Linked DNA regions of Homo sapiens: regions 2, 3 and 4 are each reported to be linked to region 1. The links are microRNA targets in miRTarBase. Many come from high-throughput screens and were not tested one by one. Region 1 holds a microRNA gene; each other region holds the end of a gene's coding sequence.

What was found. The annotated mature microRNA hsa-miR-3115 reads AUAUGGGUUUACUAGUUGGU and lies in region 1 at 2,305-2,324, shown strand. An mRNA with a match to its seed (bases 2 to 7 or 8) in the 3' UTR can be bound and repressed. Matches are read on the target gene's strand: a 7mer-m8 pairs with bases 2 to 8, a 7mer-A1 pairs with bases 2 to 7 and ends in A, and an 8mer does both.
Region 2: the mRNA of PABPN1 is a reported target of hsa-miR-3115. Seed matches in the 3' UTR shown: 7mer-A1 at 3,329-3,335.
Region 3: miRTarBase lists HYCC1 as a target of hsa-miR-3115. Seed matches in the 3' UTR shown: 7mer-A1 at 525-531.
Region 4: the mRNA of FBXO46 is a reported target of hsa-miR-3115. Seed matches in the 3' UTR shown: 7mer-A1 at 1,407-1,413.

Annotation. Positions count from the first base shown.
Region 1 is chr1:23,042,006-23,046,005 of GRCh38, forward strand. MIR3115 (microRNA 3115) reads left to right here and starts at 2,300; the gene lies at 2,300-2,367. It overlaps KDM1A (lysine demethylase 1A), which reads left to right. Exons shown (of 21, transcript NM_001009999.3): 3 at 2,422-2,481.
Region 2 is chr14:23,324,773-23,328,772 of GRCh38, reverse strand. PABPN1 (poly(A) binding protein nuclear 1) reads right to left here. Exons shown (of 7, transcript NM_004643.4): 7 at 2,610-3,526. The coding sequence ends at 3,487. It overlaps BCL2L2-PABPN1 (BCL2L2-PABPN1 readthrough), which reads right to left. Exons shown (of 8, transcript NM_001387346.1): 8 at 2,610-4,000. Among named protein-coding and RNA genes, the nearest start is that of PABPN1, 5.3 kb to the right of the region's middle. RefSeq lists a silencer at 491-580.
Region 3 is chr7:22,942,095-22,946,094 of GRCh38, reverse strand. It overlaps HYCC1 (hyccin PI4KA lipid kinase complex subunit 1), which reads left to right. Exons shown (of 11, transcript NM_032581.4): 11 at 1-4,000. The coding sequence ends at 506. Among named protein-coding and RNA genes, the nearest start is that of HYCC1, 70 kb to the left of the region's middle.
Region 4 is chr19:45,708,369-45,712,368 of GRCh38, reverse strand. It overlaps FBXO46 (F-box protein 46), which reads left to right. Exons shown (of 2, transcript NM_001080469.2): 2 at 1-1,740. The coding sequence ends at 685. Among named protein-coding and RNA genes, the nearest start is that of QPCTL, 18 kb to the right of the region's middle.

The sequences.
Region 1 (4,000 bases):
ACAAAAATCAGTCAAGAGCTACCTGTAGCTTAAATTAGTGAGTTTATTGTATGACATGTATTATAGTTGGAAAAGAAGGGAAATGAGAGGAATAGGAAAGATAAAGTAATTCAGGCTTAGGCTAGCTTCAAAGTGTGTGTTTTTTGTTTTGTCGGTTTTTTGCTGTTTTTATCTAAGTTTTTAGTGGTGAGATACCTTCATGACAAGAGACTGTCACTTTTATTTTTGCCAAGTCAGAAACATAATTTGAACGATAACAGCTGTATTATTCCTAATCTTAAGTGTGATTCTTGGAAACTATTTGTTTCATTGTTCTGAGTCCCTCCCTGCTCCCTTTCTTGCCCAAATAAAATTCAGTTTTCTGATCCAGCTTGGTTTTATTTGGAACCAAACGAAACAATGGCAACATTTTTTAAAAATCTATGAAATATATTATTTTTTTTTTTTTTTTTTTTTTTTTTTTTTGAGACGGAGTCTCGCTCTGTCGCCCAGGCTGGAGTGCAGTGGCGGGATCTCGGCTCACTGCAAGCTCCGCCTCCCGGGTTCACGCCATTCTCCTGCCTCAGCCTCCGAAGTAGCTGGGACTACAGGCGCCCGCCACTACTCCCGGCTAATTTTTTGTATTTTTAGTAGAGACGGGGTTTCACCGTTTTAGCCGGGATGGTCTCGATCTCCTGACCTCGTGATCCGCCCGCCTCGGCCTCCCAAAGTGCTGGGATTACAGGCGTGAGCCACCGCGCCCGGCCTATTATTATTATTTTGAGATGGAGTCTTGCTCTGTCGCCCAGGCTGGAGTGCGATGGTGTGATCTTGACTCACTGCAGCCTCTGCCCCCCAGGTTCAAGTGATTCTCCTGCCTCAGCCTCCCGAGTAGCTGGGATTACAGGCGAGCACCACCACACCTGGCTAACTTTTGTGTTTTTAGTAGAAATAAGGTTTCACCAAGTTGGCTAGGCTGGTCTTGAACTCCTGACCTCAAGTGATCTGCCTGCCTCAGCCTCCCAAAGTGATGGGATTACAGGCCTGAGCCACTGCACCCGGCTCTACAAAATATTTTTTATGAATAAAGCCAGAATTTACTAAGAGTGAATATATCTGATTTTAAGTTTATAGTAGAGTTTAAAATGTAGGACCTATATTTTCAAGATAAGTTTGCAGATTGGATTTAGTAACCCGATCGTCTCTTCATGATTGTATGCCTTTTTCCAAGGGCTGTAAATAGGTATACCTTGGGCCTTGTCTGAGAAGCATAACCTTCTTGAACCTAAAGGACCCTTCAGACGAGAGCTTAGTAAAATAAGTTTAGAATGAGATTCTATTCTACCTTCATAACAGAGCATGTATCTTCTAGCAACACATTCTAATATCATTGTCAGAAATAATTTCTTATATCTAAGTATCTTTTTATTCTCTTTGTTGTTCCCTTCTAACTCAAATGGTGGAATAATCAATCTGCTTTCTTATTGGGGTACGTATTTTAAAATAAACTTTAATGAAGCTTGTCTGAGTTTATCTAGATCATTGGGAGGTGGTATTTTATGTCTTCCAAAGATCACACTCATTTTCCTATAGTGTACCAGGTGACTAGAAGCTTAAGAGCATCATAGCATCTGTCTTGATGATAGATTTTGGAAGAGTTCAGAAGACAATCTATTCTTTATCAGATTGAATTTTCAAGCTTTGATTCTTTTCTTGAAGTTACTTCTACATATTAATCAGTGAGGAAAATTTCTTAACAAAGCTTATTATGTAGCATGAAGTAGAAGATTCAAGATCTTGCCTGCCTTTCTCTGTGTTACCACAAGTGTGTGTTTATCTACAGTACTTGGCACACACACACACACAGTGTCTTATTGTGTGTTCTTTAGTTTTATTTAGGAAGCACTGGCATATTTAACTGTACTAGTGTCTACTGTGTATAGTAAATGAAACTTCTTTGGAGACTGAGTCTTTTAATTATACTCCTTGCTTTGAAGAGAAGGAGATAATTTTTCATTAAAATTAGAAAGTTAAACGGATATTAAGTTGATGCTGAATTGCAATGCCAGATTCTAGAGTCTATGTCAGCTCCATTTTCAGTCTAGCAGCCGTTAGTAAAAGACACTCGGAATCCATTTTCCCCCATCCAGACTATTAATATTAAATAAGACTGACAGCAAGGATTTAGTGATTAGAAATACTATGTACTTTGTTCCACTGCCTTTCAACAAGAATCAACATGTAAAGTTGAAACTTCCTGACCAGAATTTGGAAGACTATGATGTAATTCCCTGGGCCTTGATTCCAGAAGAAGGAGCTCTCTGAATATGGGTTTACTAGTTGGTGGTGAATTCATGAGTCGCCAACTATTAGGCCTTTATGTCCAGATATTATCCTAATTTATGGAGTAAGGTCCCTGAGTTCTCCTCTTTCCTTCCACAGGGCAAGCAGGAGGACTTCAAGACGACAGTTCTGGAGGGTATGGAGACGGCCAAGCATCAGGTGAGGGTGGCATTAGATGCTTGCCACTTAGTAGCAAGAGCCGCCAAGTAGGAATTGATGCTTGCAAGTGTTTTTGGCTGTGGTATCCACATTTTAGCCAGAAGCGCAGGTGAAATTTAACCCACAGGACATAATAGTATAGTAGGAGAGAGTGTAGTGAGAACAAAGGCAAGCAAAACCTTTTGAAGTCCTCAGGCCGATCTCAGCCCTCCACTCTTTGTGTTTTCGAGGAGATGGCGGGTACTTTTCTCCCCAGCAGCCTTTCTATTAATAGTAAACATGATATAGAACATAGACTTAGGAATCATGGGACCCTTAAAGAGAAATACAGCAGTATACACAGAGAGGAAAAGTCACAGGCTCAAAAGTCTAAAAGCAAAAACAAACGGGACTGAGAGGCATTCTAGGACTAGTCAGAGGAACTATGTGGGCAAGTGACATCTTTTTAAAAATGGTTGTTACAGGGTATTGGGTACCTTTTTTCAGTTAACATTACGTAGTTAATCATTCTTCAGTTTAAACATTTTGTTTCTCATGTGAAAAATGTCTTTTGAAAAGTCTGAAATACTTTTTTCTGTTCAGACCAAACAGTATGAGATTTTTACTTCTAGGAAAAAGTAAAGAATTTATAGGGGCCACCATCTGGAACAGTTAAAATTTATCCCAGCAATCCAAAATAACGTATCTGGATTTCATCCTTTGTCTCTTGAAGGATGTTTTTGTTCCAGTTGCTCAAAGCTGGTTTATAGATACGTTTTGATAGAATTGGAATAGGCACTACTTCACTTTTGGAGGTTGTCACTTTTCAACTGTCTTAAGTCTACTTTAAAATTATTTGTTTTGCAGTTTGCATATAACAGGTCCTGGGACTGTTTCTATTTCACTCTCTTGAACTAAAGGTAGTTCATTGTTAATACAGCAATTAGTAATAAGGGGATCCAGAATGTTAGGAGCAGACTTTTAAAAATGCTGTCCCAAGGATTGCAGGTTGATAATCAGTACATGGTTATCTTAGCAGAATTAAACCCTGTTCAGAGTCTAGATCTGTGGCATATAAACCTTGAAGAATGCTTTTCATCAAATGACGCACAATTAGATCTTCCATGGAACTGTTGAAGATCAGGGATGGCCTTTAGAGTTCTAATCTTGAAGAAAGAAGTTGAGTTTTCTTGTTTTTTGTTTCTGTTTTTTTTTTGTGTGTGACTATTTGCTCTTTTGCATTAAGTAAACAATATCATATATTGCTGAAAGTGAAAGCAGACTTTCATATAAAAGTGTGCTGCTGATTACTGTTAGTAGAACATGAATTTTAAGTGTTTCCAGGAATGATGGTGACTGTTGTAAAACCTTCAAGATCTCTCTTCCAATCTTTGTCACGTTCAGAAGCATGCATTTGTGAAATGATCAATCAGGGTTAGAAATGTGCTTGTAAGAGATCAACATTCTTCTCTTAATGAAGCCAGATGACCCTCATGGGTATCTTGGTGCCAGGATCATATCTTGACTTCTTAAAACCCAC
Region 2 (4,000 bases), not on the chromosome of region 1:
CTAGAGGGAACAGCATGAGGGATACATGAAAATAAATAACAACTACAATGCATAGTACATCAGGTGTAGGGCAGGATCTGGAAGAGAAATGTAATCAGGATCAGATTGAAAAAGGTTGTAGTTCCATGCTTGTGTTTGGACTTTGTACTTATTGGTGGCATCATAGAGGGCTTTTTTTGGCAATAAGAAGTTTGGAGGCTGAGCATGGTAGCTTACGCCTATAAACCTAGCACTTTGGGAGGCCGAGGCAGGAGGATTGCTTGAGGCCAAGAGTTCAAGATCAACTTGGCCAACATAGCGAGACCCTATCTTTTAAAGTACTTTTTTTAGGAATTTTTATTTTTCAAAAAAAAATTTGAAGCCAATACATCTGCCAGGACCCCTGCAATGATGATGGGGAGTTACTCAAGCAGTGAAAGTAGGAATAGAGAGAACAGACAAGATATGGTAGAATTGACTGAATATGGAAAACTAAACCAGAGAAGGGTCAAAACATGATTCACCCTCCAATACCCAACAATTTATGGGGATCTTTTAGAGCCAGCCATTTAGTGCCCCCTGGTGGACAGATGAGACCATCACAGCATTAACAGCAACAAGTCACTTAGGCTGTTTCATTCTTCCAGTAAAAAGTTTATATTGAACACTATCCAGACCCTCACTAATCAGCCTCTGCAGAAGCCACAGAGATCACGGCACTATTTTAGGTGAATCTAGTTAGGAGAAAAGATAGACCTCAAATGCCTAACCCATAACAGAAAGTAGAATAAATGACCAAATCCTAAAATATGTGGTGGATAACACTGACATGAGATTTTAGAAAATACTGCAATTTGAGAGGTGGGTTAAGGCTTCAGATATAACAGAGTTTTTTGTTTTGTTTGTTTTGAGACAGAGTCTCGCTCTGTCACCCAGGCTGGAAGTGCAGTGGCTGAGTCTCAGCTCACCTCAATCTCCACCTCCTATGTTCAAACGATTCTCCTGCCTTAGCCTCCAGAGTAGCTGGGACTACAGGTGCATGCCACCACACCTGGCTAATTTTTGTATTTTTAGTAGAGACGGGATTTCACCATGTTGGCCAGGCTGGTCTCAAACTCCTGACCTCAAGTGATCCGCCCACCTCTGCCTCCCAAAGTGCTGAGACTGCAGGTGTGAGCCACTGCGCCCGGCCACAGAGCCATTTCTTTAACATATGATTTTTGAAGAGCATCCAGGTCAGAGGCAATTGTGAACAAAACATCCTGAGAAGTAAATGAAAAAATAGTAAGGTTGAAATACTAAGAAATTCTATAGGTAATGAAGTCTGAAGGTTCAACCTGGCTAGTGATGTAGTGTTCAAGTTTTAAGACCAATCTGACACTGGAATAAAAAATGGAGAAATTAGGATGCCCAAGACAAAATTTAGATATGAAAACAGTGAAAGCCAGTTGTGAAGTCCTAATAAACTAATCCTGGCCAGGAGCTGTGGCTCACGCCTATAGGAAGGCCAAGCCAGGAGGACTGCTTGAGCTCAGGAGTTTGGGACAGCCTGGGCAACACAGCAAAACTGTCTCTACAAAAAATTAGCCAAGTGTGAAGGCAGGCACCTATAGTCACAGCTATGTAGGACACTGAGGTGGGAGGATCACTTGAGCCCGGGAGGTTGAGGCTGCAGTGAGCCACTGCACTCCAGCCTGGGTGACAAAGCAAGACCATCTCAAAAAAATAAATGATCCAATTAATATAAGTTAGCTGGACACATTAAATGGTTACTGCATGGTTGGAAAAACAAGCTTTCCGATTGTCTCTTAGCTAAGTGTATTTTGTCTTCTGCATTTCTTGGGCCCACCTTGAGGTAGAAAAGGTAGCTGGGTGCAGTGGTTCACACTTGTAATCCCAATACTTTGGGAGGCTAAGATGGGAAGATTGCTTGGTCAACATAGCGAGACCCCAAAGACAAGGTTACCCAGACCCCAATCCAAAGCTCTAGGGCTGCAGGCATGGATAGTTCATTTGCACGTAAGCTGTATCAGGAGCACACAAAAGCGCCATTAGGTCAGTAATTCGGCTATTCCTTTTTTTATTTTGAGACAGTTTCACTCTGTCACCCAGGCTGGAGTGCAGTGGTGTGAACTTGGCTCACTGCAAGCTCCACCTCCTGGGTTCACGCCATTCTCCTGGCTCAGCCTCCCGAGTAGCTGGGACCACAGGCACCCGCCACCTCGTCAGGCTAATTTTCTGTATTTTTAGTAGAGGTGGGGTTTCGCCATGTTAGCCAAGATGGTCTTGATCTCCTGACCTCGTGATCTGCCCACCTCAGCCTCCCAAAGTCCTGGGATTGTAGCAGTGAGCCACCATGCCCGGCCCAATTCAGCTATTCTTTTACTTTCCCAGGCTTATTTCTCTCTCAAATGCCAATCAGGGTTACATGTTATCCAGAAAACCTATCATTCTCAACTAAACACATAATGTTCCTGCTAGTTGTAATGTAATTCCTACTCCTTAATTCACAAGTGGCAACCTCCCTTCCACAACACCAGTACTTCTACCACAAGGCAGAATTAATAGCCATCTGCGATCTAAGAGAGAATAGGAAGATAAATAATCCTTACACCCAAAAGGCCAAACAATTTTTATTTTCAAAAACAACTTTATTCATGACACATATTAAAAAAAAATTCCCACCCCTGGAAATGAGCTAAAAAAATAAACAAAATCCACCTCCCACCTCCCTGTTCCCACTTCCTCCCATTCCCTCCAAATAAAAGGGAAAAAAGGCAAAGGAAAAAAAAAAAAAACAAAAAAACAAAACAACTGAAAAACAAAAACACCCCTAAACCCCCCAAAACAAGGTAGTGCATTTCCCCAGGGGGAAGGGGAATTTACACTGGAGCCGCTGGGAGCGGAACGGAGATCTTCCGGCTACAGAAACCTGCAAAGAAAGACACTCAAAACAGAAAAAGAAACACAAAAGGAAACAAAATAGATCACCAGGCAATCTGGAGGGGCAGGGAGCCGGAGAAGAGGGGTGGGGTGGGTGGTAGACCTGGCTGGACAGGAGCAGGCAGGAGGGGACTGTGAAAGGCGAGGAGAAGACGGAGGGAAGGTAACAAGCAGAACAGTTTGGTGTCCTTCCAGAGCCCTGGGTAAAAAAAAAAACCTCCTACCACCCACGCCCACCTACCCTTGAGCAGCCCCCAAGGGGGTGAAGTGGGGCAGGGAAACATGGGCAGCAGCTTGCGCAGTTGAGACGTGTCCATGGCGAATCCCCAGAGTGAATAAGCAGCCCCCTGCCCCACTCCCTGGGCCTTCCCCTACTCCCCAAAGCAGGTCCCTCCTCAGCAGTTAGTTATGGGATTCTCCCCCCTTCCACAGTATATCTTTTTTTTAAAAAATATTTTTTTTCCATCAAGGTCATCTTCTGTTTTTCTTTTTTTTTTTTTTAATTCTTTTTTTTTTCCTTCTTTCCTCTTTTTTTCCTCTCTCTCCTCCTAATACACACTTTTTTTAGTAAGGGGAATACCATGATGTCGCTCTAGCCCGGCCCCTGGAAGAAAGAAGGAGAGTTAGGTGTTAACGTGATCACTAGATAGTTCAGTACAAGCCCCTCCCCGTAGGCCCCTGCCCCAGTTACTGTGAAGGGAAGGGGGGAAAAGAAGTGTTCAAGTGTCCTAAAACTGACCCCATGATCCCAGAAATAGTAACGCACCTGGAGAACTGGGGCAGGGGGAGGGGGGCTTAACAGAAAACTGCCAAACAGTGGCGAAAAAGAAGCGCATCTGAGTGAGAGACAGGGGCAAGGAAAAGGACCCCCTTTTTATCCAGTTTTCAGTCCTCCACAGCTCTTAAACCCTAGGCCATCACAAATAGATCCTCCCTAACTCCTGGGGATAGGCAGGTAGAGCTTATGAAAAGCCAAGGTTTATATGCCTAACCCGTCTATTTAAATGTAGAGACAGAAGTGAAGCAAGGCAAAAACCTGGGCACCACACTAGGCCCAGTGAGAAGTTAACCTTGCAAG
Region 3 (4,000 bases), not on the chromosome of region 1:
GGGCTGCGTCTAGTACCAGCCAGTCGGGTTTATCAAACAGTAGTCACAATTGTAGTAACAAGCCAAGTATAGGAAAGAACCACAGACGGTCAGGAGGAAGCAAAACTGGAGGAAAAGAAAAAGAAACTACAGGGGAATCTTGCAAAGATCACTTTGCTCGAAAACAAACTCAGAGAGCCCAAAGTGAGAATCTTGAGCTTCTCTCTTTGAAGAGACTTACTTTAACAACCAGCCAATCCCTACCTAAGCCTAGTAGCCATGGTTTGGCTAAGACCGCAGCGACTGTATTTAGTAAATCCTTTGAACAAGTCAGTGGTGTCACAGTCCCACATAACCCGTCATCTGCTGTTGGTTGTGGGGCTGGGACAGATGCCAATAGGTTTTCCGCTTGTAGTCTCCAAGAAGAAAAGCTTATTTACGTTTCAGAAAGAACTGAACTTCCAATGAAGCATCAATCAGGTCAGCAGAGACCTCCTAGTATTAGCATTACTCTGTCCACAGATTAATTAGTAACATATTTTTCTCCCATAACCTAGTGAACCTGGAAATACAACTTTGCTTCTTTATGAAAGTACCCTGGGTCTTTCATCCGTATTCCTGACAGGAGCCCTGATGTCTTAAATTCTGAAGGCTCCCCTGACTTTATGAAGGGAAGATTGTCTAGGTTGCAGTAAGTTGAAATATGGTTTTGTTATTTCTTGATTAAGATTTTTTCCCCTTGGTTTGAGTCTTTTTTTTCCCTCCTCTTATTTGTTATTGTTGCCCTAAGATTGTCAGTGACAATAAATTTTGACAGGTTGTCTAATCAAGTTGGTTATGTCTCATGTGAGGTTGTAAGGTGGTTTTTCTTGTTTTGGTTTGGTTTGGTTTTTTAATAGCTCCTATTTTGATGGCTGTGTGTTTGGCCTTCAGAGTCAAAGGGAGTCTGCATGTATGGGAACTGTTTTATAGAGAATGGGGCAGAGGCACAACTCCAGGAATTCTCTAGCTCCTGGTCAGGAAGCCAATCTGAAAACAGGCATGTGGAAACACAAAAATGATGTGTATGAAAAGCACCTGATGAAAATATTTGTAAGCAGATCATCTTTATGATTAGAACAATTTGCTCAAAGCCCTGGAAAATGCCTGGTAACCCAGTGCCTAGAATATTATATGATTCCAGGGGATGGCTAGAGGCATTTCTGTTGTTATCTCTGAAACATTTTTATATCAAAAATCAGATTGCTGGTAGGTGTGTTGTTTTGAAGTGTTTTATCTGGATTTAGCATGTGAAGATCCCTTTCAATTATTAAGGTATAATAGGCTGTAAAGCTGATTTACCCTACTGCTGGACTTTGGAAATCCTAGTTAGTTTGGACTCCTATAATTCAGAGCATACGTCATTGGAAGACTTCCTGGAAATCAGTGTAAATCTTGCAACATAGCTCTCAAGATACCACTGTATAATATGTAATTGTTTGTCTGCAAATGCATTTTTCATCTATAAAATGTCATGAAAGAAAATAAAGGTAGTGAAATATGGACAAAGGACATTTATATATTAACTAAAGTTGTTTATGTTTGTGTTCTTAAATTTAAAACACGAAGAAAAAGAAATGTCTTTCTTGTTAGTGAACAGGCCTGTTTTAAATATCTTAGTATGATATCAAAAGAATAATCAATTTAGTTACCTCCCAACTAAAAAGTAAAAATGAAAAAGACGACATGGCAGAAGTTGAAACAAACTTGTATGTATCTGTATGTGACCTCTAGATGGAAATAAAAGTTTGATGTTTGCTAGCCGTGGTCCTTTTGGCTATGGTTGCGGTTCCCCTGTAAAGCAAATGTACTTAAGTCATCATTCAGAGTGAGAGAGAGAAAGCACGGCTGAGGCTGAGTCAGTTGACCGTTGAGGAAGACCTAAGGAGCTGTCCAGTTCTTGGCTCTTTTTCACTGTGACTGCACAGCGGTTTCCTTCTTCATAGTCCCTTGCTGTAGTCACCAAGAGAGCATGCTAGTGTTTTCCTCTTGTTCCTGCTTATGCAGAGCTCAGATATATGAAAAATTTGTATGCTTTGAAGGCTGCCAAAGCATTTATACTCTGGACATAGTTTTAACTGCAACTGCTTTGGCTACCAGTTTAAACCGAGTTCTTCAAAAAGCATGAACTCGTTTTCATTCATTAGCCCTGTTTACAATGTGGATTTTGACATAAATGAATTTGATTTTCTTTTAGCTCCAGTAACAGAATGGAATAAGATCTATTGCCATAAATTGTAGTTAAGAACTGTAAGGCAATCGGGCAGTGAAACTTGATATTGTATTAACTTAATAGGAACCCTGTGTACAATTTAAAATATTTGTAAAATATCACTGTGAATTTACAGATGTCTTTTTGTCATTCTTTAACAATGAATTTCCCCTGTGCATAGTTATTAATAGTATTGGTATTATTAAAAACTAATTTGGCATTTTAAGATTGGCATTTTAAGCAAGTTGAGGTGCTTAGGAAACATTGTAGAATAAGTTTGGGGAAATGTTAGCTGACAGAGCTGAGAGATCAGATTTTCATGTTCTATCACTGTAATGGAACCTCATTTAGACCTCTCTAGACCTTTGCTAGCTGTGTGGTCTGAGGACCAGTAAGTAGGATTGGCATTATCTGGTATCTTGTTAAAAATGCAGAATTTCATGCCACTCTAGGTCTACTAAATCAGAATTTGCATTCTTAACAAGGTTCCCAAGTGATTTTTATGAGAAGAAAGTATCAGAGTGCAAACAAATTACTCGTCTAATATGTAGAATTCCCAGTGGTCTCACAGCCCTAGATCAAATGTGTCAGACACTAGATCATTATAATCTTCATTGGTTTTGACAGCTAATTAATTAGTTTAATAATATTGACATATGGCTTCTTAAGTATTTGAATTCTAGATTGCTAATGATCCTTATTTTTGCAGTAAAAAAGTAACACTTTATATTTTTCTTGTTAACTATAAATGGAATCAGAGCTGTAAATGCCTGAAATTTTAAGTGTGAAAAGGGGTGCCACCCTTTTATATACTGCACAACAAATTTGCATTTGTATATTCTTTTTAAAAAATCTCTGAAGACTTGCTCAGTGAAATGGTTCTGATTTTTTGCTTCAAATGATTTGCACTAATTGATTTTCTGGAGAGCGGAGTTACGTTAACAACAAAATTCTTTTATAGTTCCTTTGATACTATTTCAAATAAGGATTACACATTGAAAGTTTTTATAGAAATTATGAAAATTGGATAATCTTAACTATGGTAACCATTACTATTATCCATACTACTTTCTCCCCACTGAACTTTCAAATTTGAAAATTGGGGTAGCTTTTGTAGGTCACTTTCTTATAAAGATGCTGATGGTCACAGATCTCCTAAGTATCCAGAATAATATTTTTATCATGAGAAGGATTCCACACAAAATTGGGGTCTTGCACCCCATATTTCAGAGGATCTGAACAGAAATTGTGGCTTCATTGCACATTTTAAATCTCTATAGATTCTTGAAATCACCCAACCTCTCACATTTGAAAACCCAACGGCCTGGAGTATTCTGGTGGCACTGGAGCCAGCACTAGCTTTTTGGAATCCAAGTGGGGAGAGAAACAAAAATAGACTTTTCAAGGGACTGTCCCAGACTACCCAGGGCAAATGTCTTCCCTTCCCTTCCTGAAGCCACAGGAAAGCACCCTGGAGTCCTTTGTATACCACTATGGAAATTTTTAAGGCAAGCTCTCAAGACTTGAAGAGTTGGAATTCTCGGCATTTAAATGATGCCTGAAGTTTGTTTTGAAAAAGCAATATTTCATTGCTCTTTTCAATTGTGAAGCAACTGCTCAGCAAATATTACTCATTTTTTTAAAAAGTTGAATTAAAGGGAAATATATTTTTAAAACCAAAATAGATCAAAATGATCCCAGTTTTAAGGGATTTTGCCTATTTTGGAAGAATAAAACTAAAATGTTAAAACTGTTGAATTACAGAGAACA
Region 4 (4,000 bases), not on the chromosome of region 1:
GTGCATCTTCTTTGGCAAGGACGGCACCAAGAACGTGAAGGAGGAGACTGTGTGCCTGACGGTCAGCCCGGAGGAACCGCCGCCTCCGGGCCAGCTCTTCTTTCTCCAGAACCGCGGGCCGGACGGGCCCCCGGAGCCACCCCCGGCCGACTCCCCGGCCACTGCGCCCGGCCCAGACGATGCCGAGGGCACGGCGGACACCTCCCTGTGCCGCTTGTACCGGCACGTGTCGCACGACTTCCTAGAGATCCGCTTCAAGATTCAGCGGCTGCTGGAGCCGCGACAGTACATGCTGCTGCTGCCCGAGCACGTGCTGGTCAAGATCTTCAGCTTCCTGCCCACGCGCGCGCTGGCCGCCCTCAAGTGCACCTGCCACCACTTCAAGGGCATCATCGAGGCGTTTGGCGTGCGGGCCACAGACTCGCGCTGGAGCCGAGACCCGCTCTACCGCGATGATCCGTGCAAACAGTGCCGCAAGAGATACGAGAAGGGCGACGTGTCGCTCTGCCGCTGGCACCCCAAGCCCTACCACCATGACCTGCCTTACGGACGTTCCTACTGGATGTGCTGCCGTCGAGCCGACCGCGAGACTCCCGGCTGCCGCCTGGGCCTCCACGATAACAACTGGGTGCTGCCCTGCAATGGGCCAGGCGGGGGCCGGGCCGGCCGGGAGGAGGGGAGGTGAAGCCGGGGGAGGGGAGGGGAGAGCCCACCACGCCCACCCCTCCCCTCTCCCCCCGGGAGCCGAGGGTCCGGACTGGGCCGCCTGCCCATTCCCCTACTCCAGGCAGCATTGATCCCTCACCGGAACTGAGCTGGGGTTCAGCAGGGGTGACCCAGGAAAGCCCTCTGCTTGATCCTGTTGATTTTCTACTCTTCAGAACCAGGGCCGTGGACCCTCTGAGAAGGGTGTTTTTTTTTTTTTTATCAGCATCTCACTTTCTTCTCCATTCAGCCCCAACCCCCTCCCTGCCATGCTTTCCACCCCAAGGACCCACCAGCAGGGAGCAGACGGCAGCTAATTTTGGTACCACTTAAGGGTCCCCCCATTCTGGCCCCCATCCTCTCCCTCACCCCAATTCTTTCTCGCTGGAGCTGTTATTTCCCAAGAAGCCGCATCGCCCAAGGTTGGCACCTCTCCTAACCTGCCACACGACAGCTCTCACCTCTCTAGGAATTGGGGGCTGTCAGGTCACAGGTGGGATCTGGCATTTTTTTATGACAGTCCATTTCTAGATGGTTTGCCTATTAAAGAAGTGGGGGGGAAATACTGTTTTCTCCTTAACCTCAAGCTACCAGTCTCTCCTCTTCCGCGTAGAGGAAGAGGGGGGCAGACAAAAAAAAAGCTGAAGTATAAAAACCCTCCTCCTCCCGTTATTATTTAAGCTACTGCCATCAACCCCACCCCCATAAAGCTGTGAAGCCCTTTGCCTCGCTTTTGACAGCGTGGGGGGGCCCCGTGGGCAGGGACTTCGGATTTGCATTTCTGGGTTGTTTTTCCTTCCACTCTGGGGTCTCGTTCAGGCATTGGGGTCTCCTCACCCCAGCCACATGTTTCTTTAAGAATCCTTTGGTCAACCAGGACCTTGATTTTTCAGGCATTTTGGTCTGGGGTATTTTTGTTTGTTCTCTCTGTTTTTTGTTTTCTTTTTTTTCTTTCCATCGTGGTTCTGGAAGCTTCTAGCGTGTGGCATCTGACCAATTTTGAATTGGTCCTTTCTATAAAATCAATATTTATAAGGCTGTGTGCAGACTGGTTTGTGTGTTGTGAAGGGAGGGTTTGGGAAGAGAGGGGAGTTGTAGGCCTGTGTATGGGGGATGGAAAAAGTGGAAAGAGAAGGGATCCCTAGCCAAGTCCCTTAGCCTGAGATTATTTTTTACTCTTCTCATCTGTGTCAATTTGGATTTGAAAAATCTCAAAATAGTAGTAGCTTGAACAAGATTTTTTTTTTTTTTTTTTTCCCTTAGAGACAGGGTCTCTCTCTGTCACCCAGGCTGGAGTGCAGTGGTATGATCACAGCTCACTGCAGCAACCTCCTGGGCTCAAGGAAACCTCCCACCTCAACCTGCCAAGCAGCTGGGTTTTCTACAGGTGTACGCCACATACCCAGCTAATTTTTAAATTTTTTTTTTTTTTTTTTTTGAGTCGGAGTCTCACTCTGTCGCCCAGGCTGGAGTGCAGTGGCGGGATCTCGGCTCACTGCAAGCTCTGCCTCCCGGGTTCACGCCATTCTCCTGCCTCAGCCTCCCAAGTAGCTGGGACTACAGGCGCCCGCCACTACGCCCGGCTAATTTTTTGTATTTTTAGTAGAGACGGGGTTTCACCGTTTTAGCCGGGATGGTCTCGATCTCCTGACCTCGTGATCCGCCCGCCTCGGCCTCCCAAAGTGCTGGGATTGCAGGAGTGAGCCACCATGCCCAGCCAAGATTATATTGCTTTTACTATCACCATTTTGCTGGAAGGGAGGCCCCCTTCCTCCCAGAAGCACTACACTATGCTTCTATATACATCTCACCCGTCAGACTTAGCCACAGAAGGGCTGCATGAGTCTAGGAAATGCAGTCTTTTAGCTGGGTGCAATATGCCCAACAAAACACTCTTTACTAAAAATCCCTGTAATTAAAGTTTTTAAATAGCCACTTAATTTTTTATTTATTTATTTGAGACAGTCTCAATCTGTCACCCAGGCTGGGGTGCAGTGGTGTGATCTCGGCTCACTGCAACCTCTGCCTCCCGGGCTCAAATGATTCTCCTGCCTCAGCCTCCTGAGTAGCTGGGATTACAGGTACTCGCCACCACAGCTGGCTAATTTTTGTATTTTAGTAGAGACGGGGTTTCACCACGTTGTCTAGGCTGCTGTCGAACTCGTGGCCTCCAGTAATCCACCCATCTCAGTTTCCCAAAGTGCTGGGATTACAGGGATGAGCCACCACGCCCAGCTGGATATCTTAAATTTTCAGTTTAAAGGAAGGGAAAAATGGATATTGAGAGGCAGCTAAGTCTCTGACATTCTTCTCCGGAAATCAGAATTTCCAGAGGACTAGGATACATTATGGTAGTGATTCAATGCTTAGATTTTAGAATCAATAAGACCTGGGTTTGAATCTTGTGGGGAGGGTGAGTTAGATTATTCGGACCTTCCTGTTGAGAACAACTGAAAAAAAAATGCCCTTCAAAGGATCAAATAGCCAATAAAATACAGTAAAGACCCACCACGCCAAATAGTTAAGAGAATGATATGTGGGAGCCGGGCGCGGTGGCTCACTCCTGTAATCCCAAGCACTTTGGGAGGCCAAGGCGGGCGGTTCGAGATCATCCTGGCTAACACAGTGAAACCCCATCTCTACTAAAAATACAAAAAATCAGCCGGGTGTAGTGGTGGGTACCTGTAGTCCCAGCTACTCGGGAGGCTGAGGCAGGGGAATGGCGTGAACCCGGGGAGCGGAGCTTACAGTGAGCCGAGATTGCGCCACTGCACTCCAGCCTGGGAGACAGAGCAAGAATCCGCCTCAAAAAAAAAAAAAAAAAAAAAAGAATGATATGTGGGGCTCTGAAGCCACATTTGCTCTCAGGGTGTTTGCTGATGTGGACACACTGGGGTTTCCTACTTGGCAGCCTTACTGGAAGGAGCAGGCAAAAGTCAAGTCCAAAGCCAGCCCACAGTGAGCAACTGCAGGAACTGGGATTCCAGAGAGCTACAAGCTCAGGTAAGGATGACCCGGAAGACTGAAGAGGTATTCAAGAGGCAGAAATCAAATGAAAAAAAAAGAAAGATTCTGATAATCTGTGGTCACAGACTGGCCCTCGGCACAGGTTCGCAGCCAGGTTCACGTCCTGTGTGATACAGGGTACTTCTAGCTGACATGTCTGGCAGAAACAAACACAAGTCCACCTGTGGAAGGAACTGTCATCTAGAAGCCCCACAAATATTTTTGTTTGTTTGTTTTGAGATGCAGTTTCGCTCTTGTTGCCCAGGCTGGAGCGCAGTGGCGCGATCTC